Regions from separate parts of the Homo sapiens genome. Here region 1 is linked to region 2. The links come from fine-mapping of genetic effects on gene expression. Tissue or cell type: whole blood. Region 2 holds a variant in brackets; the other region holds the start of a gene. All regions are shown on one strand. Distances are from middle to middle.

Region 1 (8,113 bases), 210 kb after region 2:
AAATAGAGAATAGAAAAACAATGGAAAAGATCAACAAAACTAAAAGTTGGTTTTCGGAAAAGATAAAAAAAAATCGACAAACCTTTAGCTAGACTAACCAAGAAAAAAGAGAGAAAACTCAAATAAGTAAAATTATAAATGAAAGAAGTGAAGACATTACAACTGCTATCACAGAAATACAAAGAATCATAAGAGACTACTATGAACAATTATATGCCAGCAAATGGGATAACCTAGAAGAAATGCATAAATTCCTAGAAACACACAATGTGCCAACAATGAATCATGAAGACATAGAAAATCTGAACAGACCAAAAATATAAATAAGGGGACTGAATCAGCAATCAAAAACCTCCCTACAAAGAAAAGCCTAGGACCAGATGTTTCACTGGTGAATTCAACCAAATACCTAAAGAAGAATTAATGGCAATTCCTCACAAACTGTCCCAAAATATTGTAGAAAGAATATTTCCAAACTCATTTTACAAGATGAGTATTACCCTAATACCAAAGCCAGATAAGGACACTACCAAAAAAAAAAAAAAAATCACAGGCCAATACCCATAATAAACATAGATGCAAAAATCCTCAACAAAATACTAGCAAACCAAATTCAACAGCACATTAAAAAAAAAGCAAAAAAAAAAAAATCAATCAAAAAAATTTAGCATCCTTTCATGATAAAAAAAAACTCTCAACAAATTGGGTATAGAAGAATTCTACTACTGAGCCATTAAAAGGAATGAAATAATGTTAATAATAAGTGAGAAAATATTTTTTTTGGTTTTCTACTCCTGTGTTGCTTAGAATAATTGCCTCCAGCTCCATCCAAGTTGCTGTGGAATATTTGAGAAAATATTTGCGAACCTATATCTGAAAATAGATTAATATCCAAAATATGTAAGAACCATGCAATTCAATAGCAAAATGAAAACAAAAACAAAACAAATAACCTGATTTTAAAATGGGCTAAGGACCTCAACATTTTCCAAAGAAGACATAAAAATGGCAAACAGGCATGAGAAAACATGCACAATATCACTAATCATCAGAGAAATTCAAATCAGAATAATCACATCACCTTATACCTGTTAGGGTGACTATTATCAAAAAGACAAAAGATAACAAAGTATGGATGAGGATGTAGAGAAAAGAGAATCCTTTGTGTTTGCAGAATGTAAATTTGCACAACCATTATGGAAGACAGTGTGGTGGTTCTTCAAAAAATTATAAATGGAACTGCAATATGATCCAACAATCTTAATTCTGGGTACATATCCAAAGGAAGCAAAAGCAGTGTTTCAAAGAAATATATGTACTCCCGAATGGGCACGGTGGCTCACGCCTGTAATCGCAGCACTTTGGGAGGCTGAGGTGGGTGGATCACCTGAGGTCAGGAGTTTAAGACCAGCCTGATCAACATGTTGAAACCCTGTCTCTACTAAAAAAAAATAGAAAAGTTAGCCGGTGTGGTGGCAGATACCTGTAATCCCAGCTACTCTGGAGGCTGAGGCAGGAAAATCACTTGGACCCGGGAGGTGGAGTTTCCAGTGAGCTGAGATTGCACCATTGCACTCCAGCTTGGGCGACAAGAGAGAAACTCTGTCTCAAAAACAAACAAACAAACAAACAAACAAACAAAAATATATATTATATAAAATATGTACTCCCATGTTCATTGCAGCATTATTCACAATATCAAAGACATAGAAACAACCTACATATCTGTTGATGGATGAAGGGATAAAAATTGTGATTTATATACACACACACATATATGTGTGTGTGTGTATATATATATTTATATTTATATAATAGAATAGTATTCAGCCATAAAAAAGAAGGAAATAGTGCCCTTTGAGACAGCATGGATGAACCTGAAGAATATCATGCTAAATGAAATAAGTCACAGACAAATACTATGATCTCATTTATATGTAGATTCTAAAAATTATCAAATACATGGAAACAGAGAGTAGAATGGTGGTTTCCACATAAGTTTTATATAAATATGTGAGAGAGAGAAAGAGATTTATTCCAAGGAGTTGATTCATGCCCTTATGGAGGCTAAGAAGTCCCACAGTCTACTGTCTGCATGCAGTAAAAGTCAGTGGAGTGATTCAGGCCAAACTGAAAGCCCAAGAACCAGGGGAGCCGATGGTGTAAATCTCAGTTTGAGGGCTGGAGAAGATAAGATGTCCTAGCTCAAACAGGCTGGCAGGAAGCAAAAAAAGGGTGAATTCCCCCTTCCTTCACCATTTTATTCTATTCAGGGTCTCAATAGATTGATTGATGCACACCTACATTGGAGACGGCATTCTACTTTCCAGAGTCCACCAATTAAAATGCTAATCCTATCTGGAAACACCCTCACAGATACATCGAGAAATAGTGTTTAATCTGGGCACTCAGGTGCCAGTCAAGTTGACACAGAAAATTAACCATCACAGAGGTACAATGCAAATAGTGGCTCATTAAGTCATGACATCCTTAGCTAGGCTGACAGTATTCTCTAATAGTTCTCAGAAGAACTGTGATAGGCAACACTTCTCACATGTAGCAACTGCCCTGGCAGGGCAGAAATTCACATTTGATGTATAGCTCTCTGGTTTTCCTCCTTGGTTAGGAAACTCTCATGGAATCTATCTTAGGAGAAAAATCATAGTTTGGAAACCACTATGCCAAAGATCCCCTCATGTGCTGGGTTCTCCAATACTGCCTGCTTCAATTTCAGACTTACAACTTTTACTTCCGTTTTTAAATTTTTTTATTTCAATTTTTGTAGGTACATAGTAGGTGTATATATTTATGGGGCTCATGAAATGTTTTGATACAGGCATGCAATGCGTAATAATCACATCATAGAGAAGGGGGTATTCATCCTGTCAAGCATTTATCCTTTACGTTACAAACAATCCAGTTATACTATTAGTTATTTAAAATGTACAATTAAATTATTATTGACTATAGTCACCCTGTTATGCTACCAATAGTAGGTCTTATTCATTCTTTCCAATATTTTGTACCCATTAACCCTCCGCATCTCCTTCCCACCACTAGCCTTCCCAGCCCCCAGTAACCATCTTTTCATTCTCTATCTCTATGAATTCAATTGTTTTGATTTTTAGATCCCACAAATAAGTGAGAACATGCAATGTATGTCTTTCTGTGCCTGGCTTATTTCACTTAACATAATTATCTCCAGTTCCATCCATTTTGTCACAACTGACAGGATTTCATTCTTTTATATGGCTGAATAGTACTCCATTGTGTATATGTACATTTGCTGTGTTCATTTATCTGTTGATAGACACTTAGCTTGCTTCCAAATCTTGGTTATTGTAAACAGTGCTGCAACAAACATGGGAGTGCAGATATCTCTTCAATATACTGGTCTTCTTTCTTTTGGGTATATAGCCAGCAGTGGGATTGCTGGATCATATGGTAGCTCTATGTTTAGTTTTTTGAGGAAGCTCCAAACTGTTCTCCATAGTGATTGTACTAATTTACATTCCCACCAACAGTGTACAAGGCTTCCCTTTTCTCTACATCCGTGCCAGCATTTGTTATTGCCTGTGTTTTGAATAAAGCCATTTTTAGCTGAGATGAGAGGATATCTCATTGTAGCTTTGATTTCCATTTATCTGATGATCAATGATGTTAAGCACCTTTTCAAGCACTTTTTCATATGCCTGCTTCCCATTTGGATGTCTTCTTTTACTTCCATTTTTATATGTTGTATGTGTTTGCATGATCAAATCTACTTTATCAGGAAACATAAAACATAAAGTGAAACGGAAAAAAAAGGAAAGATTATAGGAAACAGTCATTTGCCTAATATATCTTCACTGCACGGAAGGCAAATAATAGATATGAAACCCGAAGGTTTAGGACAGGAGACAAAGGAAAGTTATTGCCTTATTCTCCCTAACCACATCCTTCAAGTCTTCTTCCTTATTTATTACATCACATGGACAAATACACTTGACCACACCTCCTGACATTGCTCAATATTTGCTTGAGTGAAAAGAGGCTGAGGCAACCTGAAGGAGGAGCTCTCATTACCTTCTGCCCATCACTTAATAAATAGCCAGCCAATTCATCAACATTCTGGTACACTGTTGGAGAGATGAGACAGTCACACCAGCTGCCCCTAGTGGGGCTCTTACTGTTTTCTTTTATTCCAAGCCAACTATGCGAGATTTGTGGTGAGTAAACTTTGAGCTAAAATTACTCTAGAGTGATAGTCTACTGAAAACTGTTGACAAGAGACTCTATGTAGAGTTACCTGAGAAAAGATCCCATTCCAGTTTCGTATGTGGTTGGACTCCATGAATGATGAAAAGGGTGGCAGGAGATGGTGAGGAAAGTCTCACAATGCATGTTGTTGTAAGAGGAATTATAGATTGTGTATTCACTTGCCTAACTGCTCTTTCTATGCTCAGATCCTCTCTAGCACAGCATCCCTACCAAGTAACTCCCTATTCATGTGACTTTTCAATGACAGAAAATTTATGCTCCCAGAAACTTTTCTAGATCATGGAAAGTTATCTTTTGGTCTTGATATGCAATCTTTTTTCCCTGAAATTCAATGCATGATTTTTGGGTTAACCCCTTGTAACTACATAGAAAAAAATAATAATCTCTTTCAAATAGTGATGACTGCTGTCTTGTCATGAGTGAGTTTAGATGTTCCAAGTTGCATGTCCACCTTCCTTCAACTCTTTCCCAGGACACATGGGATAAAGTTCCATCATCTCTTGCATGGGTGTTGACCCCAGAGATTGTGTGGTTCTGTAAAAGAACTTTAAAGTAAGAGAAGGGAAAACTAAATTCAGGTTTAGTTTGATCCCTTAGTTATTGAATGACCCAACATTTCTGAATTTCTTTAGCTTCATTCATAAATAAAGGATAATGAGGGGAGACTATTGAAGCAAATTATCTCATGAAGTCTGGTGCAGTTCTCAAGTGCATGAATTCTCTTTTGTGAGACTTTACTCTGAAATTGAGCTTCAAACCAGTCCAAAGATTACTAGGTGGTACTATCTGTGCTCTCTAACCAGTAAGAAGAGAACACCACAGAAGACAGGCTTGTATACATACAGGCTAAAGCATAGACTCTTCTGACTCTGATTTTTCTTCTTGGCTTGACATTTCCCCTGTTGGATCCTAAGAATAGGGAATGGCTATGTAGGTTTTAGCTTTCAATTCATTTTAAATAATAATGATAATAATTAAATTTATCTTTGAGACTCAAGGAAGCTGATTTGAGTTGTTGATCAGGAACTAAAAAGTCTGTTTCAGGGCCAGAAAATCTGCTGAGCTGGATGGTTCCACAAAATCTCAGAGAACTGACTCACAATTGTTCCATTGTGTCTGCAACAAACCATGACCTTTCTACAATCACTCTATTCAGATCTTCTTGACTCATTCTTTTAAAGTAAAGAAAACTGGGCAAGAGAAATTACATTTCCTTGATTCTCAAGTATAGTGATAAAAACTCCAGTTGAGCTGGAAATAATAGTATGTGCAGCATTTTACAGTTTATTCGGTGGTTTCTTGTCCAATATCTGTAAGGTAAGTGTTAACAGCCACAATTTTTAAATGAGAAAACTAAGAGTAAAACAAGTTACATAAGTTATTATCCACAGTCATAAGTTAAGGAGCACAAAATGTGGCCAAAATCTGAATCCAAACCTCATGTTCTTCTCACTCTCCCACTAATCCATTAGATAATCTGGAGATATGTAGGATTTGGGGCTACTCCTCAAGATTATGGAAAAATACATTGACAAAGTGTCCTGTGTTTAAATAAATAGTAAATCTTTTTATTCTCCTCTATTTCCTTGGGAGCTATGGATTTTCCTACTTCCACAGTATAATGTGACTTCCCTCCATCTCTGGAATTGGGGCATATTGTAGGCTAAAACTGGAGAGTTTTTTACAGGCTGCATAATGCTAAATAATGATCTCGATGCCCAGCCAGCTGGGTAATCAGACAATGAAGTTTTGGGGTCAATCACCAGTATAACACAGAATTATTACCTGCATTTTCTCAACATTAACCCAGTTGATTTAGAAGATGGAGAAGGAAAGAACTGAATCCAGGAAGTAGAAAGTCCTGCTTACTGAGAGTCAGAAGACATGTAGTCTAGTTTCAGCTCAGCCTCCAATTATGGAAGTTTCTTTAAGGACAATCTATCTAAGCTTCATATACAAAATTAGGGAATGATGCTAGATTTCCCAGGCAGGAGTCTGCCAGTACACAATGATAAGTCTGCACCAGTTGTTAAAATATTAAAACATTTTCATGTTGGTTGTTAAAGGAGTAATGTCTGGCATGGGGGTGGGTTCAAGACCCACCTTTGTATTATTCCACCAACACAGTCTGCAGCCACTGGATTGGTCTAGGTCTGTGCCATATCTGTTACTAAATATTTTTATATAACCCCTGCTGCAAGTCTTACTATTTTCTGAGTATGTGTTTCTTATTTCCTTCCTTCTCTGCCACAGAGGTAAGTGAAGAAAACTACATCCGCCTAAAACCTCTGTTGAATACAATGATCCAGTCAAACTATAACAGGGGAACCAGCGCTGTCAATGTTGTGTTGTCCCTCAAACTTGTTGGAATCCAGATCCAAACCCTGATGCAAAAGATGATCCAACAAATCAAATACAATGTGAAAAGCAGATGTAAGTTGCTGTATATTCTGGAAGATTTAGAAAAAAATCTACCTATTTAAAGATTATCTGCAACTAATCCTAAAAAATTATGCATCCAAAGTATCCCTGCTACATCCCTTCTAATGGTACCAAACTTGAGGTAACAGAAACATGCCCAAAATACAATCCCATGCCATTCACCCTAGAGCTAGGTCTTGCTTCTTTTGGTCTTAAAAACCACTTTTCTTCAAGAAGCCACAAACAAAAGCTATGGATTTTTATCCATTAATGCTGTTATATAAGCTAGCTTAGTTCACAACCACATGGGAATACAGATCATAACTAAGAAAGCTGGTGATGGAAAGGCAACCATGGAACAACCCAGATTTGAACTAGGTATGGGTGGGCCTTGAACCAGTCATGTTAATACTGAGCCTCAGTTTTCTAATTAGTATAAGGGGAAAAGAAGCCACTCTTACCTACCTCATAATATTATTATAAGAATTATGAGAATCCTGAGAGTTTGGATACTCTAAAAGGCAGAACATTAAAAATCAAGAATTACTATCCTAGCAAGCTGGTACCACAAAGAAAAAAAAACCCAAGATCTTGTTGTTTATCTATTTTTCCTCTTTTTCACTTTCATAAGGATTGTATGATTCCAAAACGATTCTGTGATTTTTATGGAAAAGACAAAGATTTAGTTTGCATTTATACAGTACTGCTCTAAAAGGCTCTGCTTTGAGGATAAAGAAGAGAGGAATCAAATATTCATACAGGAATGCATCACATAATGATGAATATATATGACGGTGGTCCCACAAGATTTTAATAGTGTATTTTTATTGTACCTTTTCTGTGCTTGGATATGTTTAGATACACAAATACTATTGGGCTACAATTGCCTATAGTATTCAGGACAGTAACATGCTATACTGGTTTTTAGCCTGAGAGCAACAAGCTGTACCCTATAGCCTAGGTGTGTAGTCAACTATACCATCTAGGTTGTGTAAGTACACTCTGTGATGTTTGCACAATGACAAAATCGCTTAACAACCAGTTTCTCAGAATTTATCCCTATCATTAAGCGACACAAGACTGTATAGAGCGCAACAGAAGAAAAAAGTGATAGGCAATATAAGTCTCAAGGAAATCAGGAGGCCCAAAAAATCACAAGCCTGTACCTTATTAAGCTTGAATACTTTTCTTTTCAGTGTCAGATGTAAGCTCGGGAGAGCTTGCCTTGATTATACTGGCTTTGGGAGTATGTCGTAACGCTGAGGAAAACTTAATATATGATTACCACCTGATCGACAAGCTAGAAAATAAATTCCAAGCAGAAATTGAAAATATGGGTAAGAATTAAATATTTAGAGACCCTAGACTACCTTGTCTTCTCCTCCACTGATTCAAAACTATATGAAGTTTCCCTCCACTCTTTCCTTCTCTT
Region 2 (8,113 bases):
CTGTCCCTGGATCTCGCTGCTCGAAAGCTCCTGTTTATTTTGTAACTGAAGTTTTGTACCCTTTAGCCAAACTTCCCTCCCGTCCCCTGCTCCCCAGTCTCTGATAATCATCGTTCTACTCTCTGCTTTTATTAGTTCAAATTTTTTGGGTTTCACAAATAAATGAGCTCATACAGTATTTGTTTTTCTGTGCCTAGCTTATTTCACTTAGAATAATGACTTCCAGTTCCATTCGTGTTATCACAAATGGAAGGATTTCCTTCCTTTTTATCACTAAAAAATATATTCCATTATATATGTATTCCACATTTTCTTTATCCATTTATCTGTTCATGGATAGTTAGGATGTTTCCATATCTTGGCCATTGTAAATATTGCTGCAATGAACGTGGGAGTACAGATATCTCTTCAGCACACTGATTTCAATTCCTTTGGATATATACCAGAAGTGGGATTGCTGGACCTATTTTTAACTTTTTGAGAAACCCCCACACAGTTTTCCCTATGGCTGTACCAATTTATGTTCCTACCAACAGTGCACAAGGGTTCGCTTTTCTCTATACCCTGGCCAACACTTGCTATCTTTGGTCTTTTTGATAATAGCTCTTCTAACAGCTGTGAGGTGATAGCTCATTATGGTTTTGATTTGTATTTCTCTAATAATTAGTAATGTTGAGCATGTTTTATGTAGCTGTTGGCCACATGTATGTCTTCTTTAGAAAAATGTCTATTCAGGTCATTTGCCCATTTTTAAAAATAAGGTTATGTGGTTTTTTTCTTCTGAATTGTAGGAGTTCCTTACATATATTGCATATTTACCTCTTATCAGATAAATGGCTTGCAAATGTTTTCTCCCATTCTATATATTGACTTTTCATTTTGTTAGTTTCCTTTGCTATGCAGAAACTTTTTAGTTTGATGTGACTCCAGTTATTTATTTTTGCTTTTGTCACCTGTGCTTTTGGTGTCTTATCAAAAAAATTATTGCCAAGACCAATGTCAAGGAGATTTCCCTATGTTTTCTTTTAGAATTTTCATCATCTCAGATCTTACACTGAAGTCTCTAATTCATTTTGAGTTAATTTGTGTATATGGTATAAGGGTCCAATATCACTTTGTTCCATGTAAATATCTAGCTTTCCTAACACCATTATTTTTGTCTCAAATTTCCCAATTCTAAAACTATCTTGATTTTGTATACTTGTTTGATTTTCACTGGCACAGCAGTTATCCAAGCTCATATTATTGTCCAACTTTACACTGTTAATACCATTCTTACTGGGTTTCTTTTTTACATATTCACTTATGTACCACTGGGTTTCTTTTTTACATATTCACTTATGTACCAGCCCTCTCAAAGCTGTTATTCATAATGCAGCCATAGTGACCTTTCAAATTGGCATTATTAGTAATATCACCATCCTCTGAAATCCATTCCATAACACCCATTGCTTTATGACTGGATCTCTGCCTTCACTCCTTCTCACCCTACTGCCTCCATATGAATAGATATATAGATATAGTATTTTCCAGAATATCATATGAAAAGACTATATCTATATATCTATTAATATGGAAAATAGTTTGGTTGTTACCAGAGTTTGGGGTGGGGAGAGAAGTTGATTTTCAAGAGATTACAGAAGGGAACTCTTAGGATGATGAAACTGCTTTGTATGGTACTATGGATACATAACTCTATGTTTCGTTAAAACTGATAAAATGATGTTTTGCAAATAATGAACTTTACTGTAGGCTAGTTTAAAATAAAAATTCACCAAGATACCTATGGAATGCAGGATGAAATTTAAACTGTGAAAAATAAATTAAACAACATTAGAAATGCATGCCAACCTCACCGAAAGAGGTAGAGGTTAAAAGGAGCTGGCCTAAGTACCTATAAAAAACAACTACTCTGACTGCATACCTTAAAGCTAAGGATAAAAAGAACTGTACACAAACAGTGTACTCTAGGTGGTAAATTTATTTCTCACAAAAATACTGGTTAGCAATTCTGAAATGAATTTACATGTATACTAATGTTAAACAGGTAAGGAAATAAATTGTGGAAATTGTTGCCAGATTTATTATATTCAGAAAACAGGTTATAAATAAGCAAGGTTGAGAGGTTGCTAGAATGGACCCTGTGTGGCCATATTTGAGTGGAATTTATCAGTAGGAATTCATGATGGAGAGAGAGAGATGGATAGATACATACATATGATAATAAATATAGACATGTGCATGCATGGGTCAGTGTACATGCATATATTTCTTAGCTTTGTCTCCTGAGGGGGGCTAAAAGCAGTGACATACAGTAGCAATGAGCACATCTTGCCTCCAGGTCAGGTTTTCTAAATATAGTTCTCTAAGTAAAGAAACCAGGGCTCCCTGAAGAAATGAAAATTCTAGGTCTGTAGCAGGTGAAATAACATGAAGAATCCTGTAGTTCCAGAAAATATGGAAGTGCTAAAAAGGGGAGAGTGGGGTGCAGCATGTCAAAACTACACAGGAGCCAACTCAGCTCCCAATGGCCAAAGCTGGAAAACTTTGAGAAACAAAACAAATATTGCTCATAACCAAAAGAATAATATAAATATTCATGAGTACATAACAATATAAATACTTTAATAAACAAATGAAAGAAGATACAAATCTTCCTTACTGAAACATTTAAATGATAAATAAAGGAGAAATGAGGGAAACAAAATCACCTTTTGAACAACACAATGGTATTTGCTGCAGGCAAAATCTACACATGAATCCTAAAACTTGTGGTTTTTCCCCATCTCTGTGGTGTAAATCCTCCCATCAGAGCTAACTTCAGGCTACCCAAACTATGTTGACCTGTGCTCCCTGAAAATTTAAAATTGACTTCCACAAACCAATATAAGCCAGTCTCAGGACATTCCTGTGTAAATTTCTTTCTTTTTTTTTTTTTTAGATGGAGTCTCACTCTGTTGCCCAGGCTGGAGTGCAGTGGCGCAATCTCAGTTCACTGCAACCTCTGCCTCCCAGGTTCAAGCGATTCTCCTGCCTCAGCCTCCTGAGTAGCTGGGATTACAGGCACATGCCACCACACATGACCAATTTGTGTATTTTTAGTAGAGACGGGATTTCACCATGTTGGCCAAGCTGGTCTCAAACTCCTGATCTCAAGTGATCCACCCATCTTGGCCTCCCAAAGTGCTGGGATCACAGGTGTGAGCCACCGTGCCTGGAACCTGCATACATTTTCAATTGCTTCTTAAAACTCATAGTGCTGCCCTCTCCCTCTCCCTCTCCCGCTCCTGCTCCCGCTGCCGCTCCCCACGGTCTCTCTCTCCCTCTCTTTCCACGGTCTCCCTCTGATGCCGAGCCAAAGCTGGACTGTACTGCTGCCATCTCGGCTCACTGCAACCTCCCTGCCTGATTCTCCTGCCTCAGCCTGCCGAGTGCCTGCGATTGCAGGCACGCGCCGCCATGCCTGACTGGTTTTCATATTTTTTTTGGTGGAGACGCGGTTTCGCTGTGTTGGCCGGGCTGGTCTCCAGCTCCTAACTGCGAGTGATCCGCCAGCCTCGGCCTCCTGGGGTGCCAGGATTGCAGACGGAGTCTAGTTCACTCAGTGCTCAATGTTGCCCAGGCTGGAGTGCAGTGGCGTGATCTCAGCTCGCTACAACCTCCACCTCCCAGCCGCCTGCCTTGGCCTCCCAAAGTGCCAAGATTGCAGCCTCTGCCCGGCTGCCACCCCGTCTGGGATGTAAGGAGCCCCTCTGCCCCGCGGCCCAGTCTGGGAAGTGAGGAG[C/T]GCCTCTTCCCAGCCGACATCCTGTCTAGGAAGTGAGGAGTGTCTCTGCCCGGCCGCCCATCGTCTGAGATGTGGGGAGCGCCTCTGCCCCGCCGCCCCGTCTGGGACGTGAGGAGCGCCTCTGCCCGGCTGCGACCCCGTCTGGGAGGTGAGGAGCGTCTCTGCCCGGCCGCCCCATCTGAGAAGTGAGGAGCCCCTCCGCCTGGCAGCCGCCCCATCTGGGAAGTGAGGAGCGTCTCTGCCTGGCAGCCACCCTGTCCGGGAGGGAGGTGGGGGCAGCCCCCGCCCGGCCAGCCGCCCCATCCAGGAGGGAGGTGGGGGGTCAGCCCCCACCAGGCCAGCCGCCCCGTCTGGGAGGGAGGTGGGGGGCGCCTCTGCCCGGCCGCCCCTTCTGGGAAGTGAGGAGCCCCTCTGCCCGGCCACCAACCTGTCTGGGAGGTGTACCCAACAGCGCATTGAGAACGGGCCATGATGACGATGGCAGTTTTGTGGAATAGAAAAGGGGGAAAGGTGGGGAAAAGATAGAGAAATCAGATTGTTGCTGTGTCTGTGTAGAAAGAAGTAGACATGGGAGACTTCATTTTGTTCTGTACTAAGAAAAATTTTTCTGCCTTGGGATGCTGTTGATCTATGACCTTACCCCCAACCCTGTGCTCTCTGAAACATGTGCTGTGTCCACTCAGGGTTCAATGGATTAAGGGCGGTGCAAGATGTGCTTTGTTAAACAGATGCTTGAAGGCAGCATGCTCGTTAAGAGTCATCACCACTCCCTAATCTCAAGTACCCAGGGACACAAACACCTCGGAAGGCCGCAGGGTCCTCTGCCTAGGAAAACCAGAGACCTTTGTTCACTTGTTTATCTGCTGACCTTCCCTCCACTATTGTCCTATGACCCTGCCAAATCCCCCTCTGTGAGAAACACCCAAGAATGATCAATAAAAAAATAAATAAATAAAAAATAAAAAATAAAAAAAATAAAAAAAAACTCACAGTGCTGTCATTTTATAATCTCTTGTGATGTACACCTCTCTCCAAACTTTTATTTTTCCATCTGCCCATTATACACTGAAGTTAGACCCACTAAAGTCTCTAGTTTATTCTTTGAATATTCAAAATTTTTTCTAACTTAAAGGCTTTTAATGTATCCTCTTTTCTTCCATTTGCCTTCCATCATGTTAACGCTCAGTTATCTTTAAGAACTCAGTTGAGAAGAAAAGTGTTCTAAAAAATTATCACTGACATGTCTTCTAATCTGGGTTAGAAGCTCGTCCTACGTGCTTCTCAAGATTCCTATACTCTTCCTATGAGAGCCCTTGTGTGTTTCTAGGGGTCTGTATCTCCCACTACAAGCAACTTAAGAGCAGAGATTTTGCATCATTCTCTATTATATGCCAAGCTCTTAGCACAATACGTGACACACTGTAGGCACTCCCTAAATGATTGTTGAATTAGAACAGGAATTAAAAGAAATTAAAGAATGTGTAAGCAAAAGCTCGGTTGTATGTAAGAGAAACCCAATTCCCCCTGAAGAAGAGAAAGAGCTGGAGTCCTTTAAAATTAACTGCCTGTTTTTCTGCGGCTAGTGAGCCTTATCTCTCCCTTTCCCAGGCATTGTGAAGACCCTATTTCTCTAGCTGTGCAGGTGCAAGGTCACTAGGCAGATAAACTCAAGTCGTAAAACATGTTTTTCCTTGAAAAAATAAGAAATAATGTAATACATGTCTTAATTGAATAACTGTCTTTGTTTCTCACTTCTGTAATATGCTTCCCCCTGCACAGATCGTCCCCCGCTGCACAAAATGCTTAAAAGGTAACCGGACTCTTTGTTTGGGGCTCAGTCCTTTGGATGTTAATCCGACTGGGTCGGTGCACCTAAATAATTAAATAATTCCTCCTCAACCCCTCAGTCTCTCTGGTTCCTTAATTATCCCGCTGCAGAATGGATTAAAAAATAAAGAAATAATTATTATATAAGTAGGATACAAGTGTTAGAAAAGAACCTTTGCACATACGATATACACGTAACTAAGAATAAATTATTGGTATAAATTTATGGACACAATAAGTGCTTATATTTCTTATTCATAAATTTTATTTTTCTTGGATATTTATGAATAAGAAATATAAGTGCTTTAGCAGATTTATAAACGAGGAACTGAGGGAAGTTTTCACGCCACATTGCCACCTCGAAAAGATGGCTATTGGAGTTGTTGGAGGTTATACGAGGAGCCACAATGGAAGTGTAAGTAAGTTTTCCACTGTATCTCTCCAGCACATCTGACCACAATCCCACCTTAGCTTTCACCAGCAACAGCAAGACCAACAACAACAGCAACATCATTGTCAAGTACCTGTGGTGCTGTTTCACATTTTCTTTTTATTTTCATTTAACCCTCAGAGCAACCGACAAAGTAGTTGTTATTATTACACCTATTTTACAGATGAGGAAAAATAGATCAGAGAGATTAGATAATTTGCCCATGTTCATACAGGTAATAAGTGACAGTTTCAGAATTTGAACCCAGATGTGTCAGATTCTAAAGGCCTTATTCTTTAGTTCTCTACTTTACAGTTTCCCATTGTCCTTTGAAGAACACATTTGGGCTTGCTCTCAGACTCGCCAACATAAATCATCATTTACATATCAGGGCATGTGTGAGTTCCAGCAGTTCACTGAAATAAAATCCCTGAGCCTTAACCCTCCCATCTCAAATACAGTGAAAATTTATTTTAATGATAATGATGGTAATTTTTTATTTGACACTTTTTATAATGCTGATGTTAAAGTCAAGAAGCATTTCTCTGTAATGGAAAAAATGTCTCATTTTTCTTCCTACTGGGCGGTCAGAAGTTGGATTTTAGAAAAAATATATTGAATAGGGATTATACCGCCTTCCTTCCTTAAACCTCATAAAGCAATGGAGTAGGTGGATAAGAAGAAATAGAACCAATTTCTGGAAACAACTTTGGAGTAATGATCATAGAAGTTACAGATATCCAAGAATGCCTAAAGAAATATATCTGTCCTTCCATACCCACGACACACAAATAGGATTTATAGTTAGGAGAGAAAGGATAGAGTCAGTCAAACGTCCAAGGTTCTTGTGATTGGTGCCATGATAGAAGGATTGAGCTTTACGAGCAGGCTTATGTTCTCCTGAGTTTGTGGGTGAAGCTCTGAGTCACTGGAGATTTAAGGTCAAATATTCATGCTCTCAGAATTAAGGAGGTATTCTTGATTACACAGAATTGGGAGGTGAGGAAATTTCCTAGAAAATAAAACAACATTAATGTCCAAGAACAGGATCATTATCTCCTTCTCCTCCCATCCCTTCCTGTTATCATCATAATCATCAACAATAAAATCCATTCATTGATGTTTACTGTGCCAAATGCCATAAAGATTATATACACAGTACTCACAACAAACATTAGAAGAGAATGAAAATATTATTTTCATTTTACAGTTAATATATCTAAAATTTAGAAAGAATTATTAATTTTTCCTAGGTCATACAATTAGAAAGTTACAAGTTATAAGAAAATAATAAAACTTAATTACAGCTGTATAAGAAAGTATGCTCTTATATATCAAGTACAGTATTTCCTCTTGCATGTTCACATCCAAATTCTTTTCTACCCTTCATTCCATCTCTAACATTCATACAATCTCTAATTCCAGGAACTCCACAAATCATTACCACATAAAGGTTTATTTCTAAGCATCAGAAACAACTTCAAACCCTACAGGGAGGCTTTGAGATCATGTGAATGATTAATCATTTGAAAAATCTCACCTCTCTTGAATTACAGCAGTTTGCATTGCACCACATGGCTATGGTAGAGATGGTTACGCATAATTCCAGCAAGGTGAGAATCAGCAGTAGAGACACCATGCCCTAGGGGATATGATGCCTTATATCAAACCCAGTGGCAACATCCAGAGGTAAAAAAAAAAATGTCAGCAGGAAACCAGACTACAACATCTCCCTCCCGTAAAGTGGAACAAAGTGAACCATAAATTAAAGACAGAGACACATATAACACTGTAGAAGAGATAGTATCTCAATCTAAAAGCATGAAAACATTTTCTCTAATGAGAAAGATGTGTCACATTTCTATGTCAACGCATGTGAAGTAGCTACAGGGGGAAGAAGCTGTAGAAACAAAATTCTGACATTATCACTAACATCTTCCAATCTGAATAGTAGTAAACTAAGGAGAGGAGTAGGCAGTTTAGAAAAATGAACAAAAATGGCCCTTCCACAATTTCATTAGCACTTCATAGGGGTTTAGGCATTTACATTATCCCTAGAAACTAAAACACTG

The links. PIP is the estimated chance that this variant, and not a neighbour inherited with it, causes the effect.
Region 1: it holds the start of TCN1, and the variant in region 2 is the best candidate, but not a certain one, in a credible set for the expression of TCN1 in whole blood (TOPMed, PIP 0.55).

What each region holds. Positions count from the first base shown.
Region 1 is chr11:59,862,487-59,870,599 of GRCh38, reverse strand. It overlaps TCN1 (transcobalamin 1), which reads left to right and starts at 4,113. Exons shown (of 9, transcript NM_001062.4): 1 at 4,113-4,208; 2 at 6,514-6,693; 3 at 7,878-8,018. The coding sequence starts at 4,130.
Region 2 is chr11:60,069,144-60,077,256 of GRCh38, reverse strand. MS4A3 (membrane spanning 4-domains A3) reads right to left here. Exons shown (of 7, transcript NM_006138.5): 6 at 7,582-7,683; 7 at 6,142-7,053. The coding sequence ends at 7,024. Among named protein-coding and RNA genes, the nearest start is that of MS4A2, 15 kb to the left of the region's middle. The variant C/T (reference allele first, on the strand shown) is at 3,785.